2 linked regions of the Homo sapiens genome follow. Each later gene encodes a partner of the first gene's protein in a complex. Each region holds a gene or a part of one and is shown in the gene's direction. Other genes may lie near its edges.

Region 1 (2,518 bases):
GCTGTCATGTCTGGTCGTGGCAAGCAAGGAGGCAAGGCCCGCGCCAAGGCCAAGTCGCGCTCGTCCCGCGCTGGCCTTCAGTTCCCGGTAGGGCGAGTGCATCGCTTGCTGCGCAAAGGCAACTACGCGGAGCGAGTGGGGGCCGGCGCGCCCGTCTACATGGCTGCGGTCCTCGAGTATCTGACCGCCGAGATCCTGGAGCTGGCGGGCAACGCGGCTCGGGACAACAAGAAGACGCGCATCATCCCTCGTCACCTCCAGCTGGCCATCCGCAACGACGAGGAACTGAACAAGCTGCTGGGCAAAGTCACCATCGCCCAGGGCGGCGTCTTGCCTAACATCCAGGCCGTACTGCTCCCTAAGAAGACGGAGAGTCACCACAAGGCAAAGGGCAAGTGAGGCTGACGTCCGGCCCAAGTGGGCCCAGCCCGGCCCGCGTCTCGAAGGGGCACCTGTGAACTCAAAAGGCTCTTTTCAGAGCCACCCACGTTTTCAAATAAAAGAGTTGTTAATGCTGGCCACTCTCAGTCCAGCGTTCCTCAGTAGTGAATAGCGAACCTGGAGCTGACGGGACGGGACGGGACGGGACGGGACGGGACGGGGCGGGGCGGGGCGGGGTGTGTGTGTGTGCGCGCCGTCTTCCATCTGGAGCACGTAACTGCCTTGGCTCTTCGATGAGTGGGTCCCCAGTCCTAGGACTTCCCAGGGCAGGTGCAGGCACCAAACGTCCTGGGCGCCGCCACGGTCCGCTCCACACAGTCACAAACACCAGCGCCGCGGGCAGTACCCAACGCGCTGAAGTGTTGCGCGCGGAGCGCGCGCTTCCCTAGTGGTTTCCGCAGGCTATGGCCGGACACTTAGACCTAGTCTGGCACCAGCGGGACGTGCTCCTCGTCCCCACCCCCGATGGGGAGGGCCCTGAGCGGGTAGTGCTCGCTAGTGTGGCGGAGCTGGGTCTTGGCTTCACTGAGCTGACTTAAGTCTTAGTTTCTGTTTTGTTTTCCAAAGCGCCCTGGCGGCGGAGAGTAAGGGCCTCGGAGGCGGAATCTTGCGTCCTGGGGGCGGGCACCTCTCCCACCCAAAAGGCACCCGACAGGCGAAAAACGATCCGCCAAGTAGCAACTGGGGGCGGGGGGCAAATGGAAGAATGAGGTTCCACGCGGGAGCTGTAGGGCGCAGCAAGAAAGGGGGGGTATTGCGGGCAGTGTGTTCTAAGGAAGCGAAGGGCGGAAAGGGAACAATCTGACAAAGCTGCAATGGAAAATGACTTTCACCCTGAAGGAAAGGGGAAAAACAAGCTTGCGAAACTTCGCCAACTGGTAAGTAGAAAGTGAGGCGGGGTGGGCGGGATTAGGGAGGAATCTGCCCAAGCCAACCGGTGACTTTAGGACGGGTGACGTCACAGCCAATGGACAGCCAGCGCGGGATTTTCAATTATTGTTCCGCCCAATCGGGAAAAGACTGTGCTTATAAAGACGGCTGCGGCGGGGCTAGGAGCTCGTTTTTCTCCCCGCCGCTGCGCTGGTAAGCCTGTGTTTTGGTTCGCTATGGCCCGTACTAAGCAGACTGCTCGCAAGTCGACCGGCGGCAAGGCCCCGAGGAAGCAGCTGGCCACCAAGGCGGCCCGCAAGAGCGCGCCGGCCACGGGCGGGGTGAAGAAGCCGCACCGCTACCGGCCCGGCACCGTAGCCCTGCGGGAGATCCGGCGCTACCAGAAGTCCACGGAGCTGCTGATCCGCAAGCTGCCCTTCCAGCGGCTGGTACGCGAGATCGCGCAGGACTTTAAGACGGACCTGCGCTTCCAGAGCTCGGCCGTGATGGCGCTGCAGGAGGCCAGCGAGGCCTACCTGGTGGGGCTGTTCGAAGACACGAACCTGTGCGCCATCCACGCCAAGCGCGTGACCATTATGCCCAAGGACATCCAGCTGGCCCGCCGCATCCGTGGAGAGCGGGCTTAAGAAGTGGCGGTTCGGCCGGAGGTTCCATCGTATCCAAAAGGCTCTTTTCAGAGCCACCCACATCAGCACTTGGAAGAAGCTGTACCGCTTGCCCTCCGTGCTCCTCCGGCATTAGAGCGGGGAAGGCACTTCCGCTTAGGCTCCCAACAAAACGGGGTCGGGTCCCCCTGCTGCGGTGCCGTCTTGAGCTTTGCCGACTTCGGCCAATTGGCCTATCCGCACTGGCCGGGCTGCGGACGCTTTCCTGGGCGCCGGCTCGCGGGCTTTGGCGGTCCGGCTCCCCCCGCGCGTGACCGGGGCCCTGCGTGGCGGGGGGGCCGGGGCAGGAGAGACGGGGCGTCGGGCACGAGGCCAGGGGTCACTAGGGGGACGCTCAGGGCTCGCGGTCCTGAGCGCGGCTGGCCTTTGCGGAAGTGGAGCGCCACACGCCCGTGCTTCGCGCCCAAACCGGCCTCACCCGGCGCGGCCATCCGGCTAGGGAGGGAAATGACCACCTCGGCCTCGCCGGGGTTCTGCGGACAAACGTGGGGAGAACTGCGCTGGGGCTGCCGTTCAGTCCC
Region 2 (3,500 bases), on another chromosome or scaffold:
TGAGACAGGAGAATCGCTTGAACCTGGGAGGCAGAGATTGCAGTGAGCCAAGATCACACCATTGTACTCCAACCTGGGTGACAAGAGTGAAACTCCATCTCAAAAAAGAAAAAAAAAATTAGCTAGGCGTGGCAGCGGGCACCTATAATCCCAGCCACTCGGGAGGCTGAGGTATGAGAATCACTGGAACCTGGGAGGCGGAAGTTGCAGTGAGCTGAGATCGCATCACTGTATTCTAACCTGTGTGACAGAACGAGACTCCATCTCAAAAAAAAAAAAAAATACAAGAGCCTATCCCTGCCTTCTTGCTGTTGAGCTATTTCAATTAGTTAACCCTCCTATATCTTTGCAGACCTGGAGTGGAAGATCATTTATGTTGGCTCGGCTGAGAGTGAGGAATTTGATCAGATCCTAGACTCGGTGCTGGTGGGCCCTGTGCCAGCAGGGAGACACATGTTTGTCTTTCAGGTAAGAAAGATGAGGCCTTAGGCCTTAGCCCTTGATTCCTAGAAACATCCTCTTTTACCTGAAATCCCACAGAGTGCTTCAGGAATCAAAAGTTCAAGTTCAGCTGGGCACGGGCTCACGCCTATAGACCCAGCTACTCCAGGGACTGAGGTGAGAGGATTGCTTGAGCCCGGGAGTCTGAGGCTGCAGTGAGCCACTGCACTCCAGCCTAGGCAACACAGTGAGACCCTGTCTCTAAAAAAGAAAAAAACAAGTATTAAAAACATAGAGGCCGGGCACAGTTGCTCACACCTGTAATCCCAGCACTTTGGGAGGCCGAGGTGGGAGGATTGCTTGAGGCCAGGAGTTTGAGACCAGCTGGGGCAATATAGTGAGACCGCATCTCTACAAAAAATGTAAAAATCAGCAGAGCATGGTGGTGTGCGCCTGTAGTCTCAGATACTTGGGAGGCTGAAATGGGAGGATCACTTGAGCCTGGGAGATGGAAGCTACAATGAGCCAAGACCACACCACTGCACTCCAGCCTGGGCAACAGTAAGACCCAGTCTCAATCAATCAATTAAAACAATTTAAAAGTTCAGGTTCAAATCCTAGTTCTACTGTCAGGAACTATCTGACCTCTCAGAGGCCGTCAGGCCCTCCCTTCCCCCACCTCTGTGTCAAAGCTGCCACTGATTTACAGGCAATTCCCATTATTTACAAGAGTTACGTTCTATAAAGTTGCCGCGAACACTGAATTAGTGAATACTGAACCATTGCCCCAGGGGAAATACAGGGTTAGATTCTTGGAAGTCACATTTTCGTCAGCTGGTTAATACGTAAACTTGTATGTGTGTTTATGTTGAAAAGACACCAGGACGGCTATGATGGCTCAAACCTGTAATCCCAGCACTTTGGGAGGCTGAGGTGGGTGGATCGCCTGAGGTCAGGAGTTCAAGACCAGCCTGGCCAATGTGATGAAACCCCGTCTCTACTAAAAATACAAAAATCAGCCAGGTGTGGTGGCGCATGCCTGTAATCCCAGCTACTCGGGAGGCTGCGGCGGGAGAATCGCTTGAACCTGGGAGATGGAGATTGCAGTGAGCTGAGATCGCACCAGTGCACTCTAGCCTGGGTGATACAGCGATACTCTGTCTCAGAAAAAAAGGAAAGATACCTTATTTAATATATACAGTGGTTCATTTATGTTGAATTCACAGCCAACAGCACTATAACTCTCCTGAATGAAACTTCTCTAATACGCATATTTTCCATAAAGCCTTTCTTGTATCCTACACTGCACTTCAGCACTACCGTTGGGTGCCATCATAGACAGCAAACTCACCAACAAAAAGCACAAAACATGGAAAAAAGCACTAAGTAGGCTGAGGAAAGGACGCTCATTCACAGTGAGAGCTGAGACCAGAAGACAGAGTGTTGCCTTGTTTGACCTCAGGTGGGAACAGGCGTGGTAGGTAACTCTAGGTGGGAACAGGCATGGTAGGTAACTCCAGTTTTTCCCTGCTCTGTGCATGTCTGCAAGTGACTGTGAAAGCAAGCAGGTGTTCATCTTGGGGTTACAAATAAACTTAGCAGGTAGGTGAACTTGCACATATGGAACCCATGAATAATGAGGATGGACTGTAACTCCTAAATGGCTCTCATGCAGCACCCCACCTGGGTTGTCAAATGTAGATTCTGGCCGGGTGTGGTGGCTTCCAGCACTTTGGGAGGCAGAGGCGGGAGGACTGCTTAAGGCCAGGAGTTCCAGACTAGCCTGGGCCACATAGCGAGACCCCCATCTCTACAAAAAATAGAAAAATTAGCCGGGTGTGGTGGCTTGCACCTGTCGTCCCAGCTACTTGGGAGGCTGAAGCAGGAGGCTTGCTTGAGCCTGAGAGTTTGAGGCTACAGCGAGCTATGATTGCACCTCTGCACTGCATTCTGGGTGACAGCGAGACCTGTCTCTACAAAAAAAACATTAACCAGGCATAGTGATGCAGGCCTGTAGTGCCAGCTACTAGGGAGGCTGAAGCAGAAGACTCACTTGAGGCCAGGTGCCATGGCTCACACCTGTAATCTCAACACTTTGGGAGGCTGGGGCAGGCAGATCACTTGGGGTCAGGAGTTAAAGACTAGCCTGGCCAACATGGTGAAACCCTGTCTCTACTAAAAAATACAAAAATTAGCTGGATGTGGTGGTGCACATTTGTTATCCTAGCTACTCGGGAGGCTGAGGCACGAGAATTATTTGAATCCAGGGGGCGGAAGTTACAGTGAGCTGAGATTGCGCCACTGCACTCGAGCCTGGGCAACAGAGTGAGACCCTGTCTCTAAAAAAAAAAAAAAAAAAAAATAGGCTCGCTTGAGCCCAGGAGTTCCAGGAGTTTACAGTGATCTGTGATTGCACCACTGCACTCCAGTCTGGATGACAGAGGGAAAAGCTATCTCTTTAAAAAAAGAAGGCCGGTGCAGTGGCTCACGCCTGTAATCCCAGCACTTTGGAAGGCCAAGGTGGGCGGATCACAAGGTCAGGAGATTGAGACCATCTTGGCTAACATGGTGAAGCCCCATCTCTACTAAAAAATACAAGAAATTAGCCAGGCCTGGTGGCGGGCACCTGTAGTCTCAGCTACTCAGGAGGCTGAGGCAGGAGAATGGCGTGAACCTGGGAGGCGGAGCTTGCAGTGAGCCGAGATCACGCCACTGCACTCCAGCCTGGGTGACAGTGAGACTCCATCTCAAAAAAAAAAAAAAAAAAAAAGAAGAAAGAAAAAACAAATGGAGATTCTGAGTTCTCCAGGTGATTTTTCAGGATCCTCTGCTCGGATACACTCCCTTACCTCCATCACTGCTGTTACCGCCCTAATCCAAGCTACCACATCCTATCTAACCCCTTCAGCCACCACTACTAAATCCACTGACAGGCCCTATCTACTCAACAGTCAGGACTGGCCTCCTGGGTGTGCAACCCAGGCAGCTGCACAGGACCCCACACTTGGTGCGATACTCTGCTGTCACCGTCTGAAACCTAATAGCTTTTCTGGAGGGGC

What was found.
Region 2: the proteins of H3C15 (region 1) and ASF1B are in contact, whole or in part, in a crystal structure (PDB 5BO0), measured with the Homo sapiens proteins. Residues at the interface, in NP_001005464.1 of Homo sapiens: Asp107 (codon at 1,866), Leu110 (codon at 1,875), Cys111 (codon at 1,878), His114 (codon at 1,887), Ala115 (codon at 1,890), Lys116 (codon at 1,893), Lys123 (codon at 1,914), Gln126 (codon at 1,923), Leu127 (codon at 1,926), Ala128 (codon at 1,929), Arg130 (codon at 1,935), Ile131 (codon at 1,938), Arg132 (codon at 1,941), Gly133 (codon at 1,944), Glu134 (codon at 1,947), Arg135 (codon at 1,950); in NP_060624.1 of Homo sapiens: Val45 (codon at 376), Ala48 (codon at 385), Ser50 (codon at 391), Glu51 (codon at 394), Asp54 (codon at 403), Thr87, Asp88, Val90, Val92, Thr93, Val94, Leu96, Arg108, Gly110, Tyr111, Tyr112, Asn114, Glu116, Leu140, Asn143, Arg145, Thr147, Phe149.

Annotation. Positions count from the first base shown.
Region 1 is NC_000001.11:149,851,108-149,853,625, forward strand, and holds H3C15 (histone H3.2), read left to right. Parts: upstream 1-1,500; 5' UTR 1,501-1,547; coding exon 1,548-1,958; 3' UTR 1,959-2,018; downstream 2,019-2,518. Other genes in the region: H2AC19 (histone H2A type 2-A), read left to right, coding at 7-399. UniProt on the Homo sapiens protein: Core component of nucleosome. Nucleosomes wrap and compact DNA into chromatin, limiting DNA accessibility to the cellular machineries which require DNA as a template.
Region 2 is NC_000019.10:14,123,090-14,126,589, reverse strand, and holds part of ASF1B (histone chaperone ASF1B), read left to right. Parts: intron 1-352; coding exon 353-468; intron 469-3,500. UniProt on the Homo sapiens protein: Histone chaperone that facilitates histone deposition and histone exchange and removal during nucleosome assembly and disassembly. Cooperates with chromatin assembly factor 1 (CAF-1) to promote replication-dependent chromatin assembly.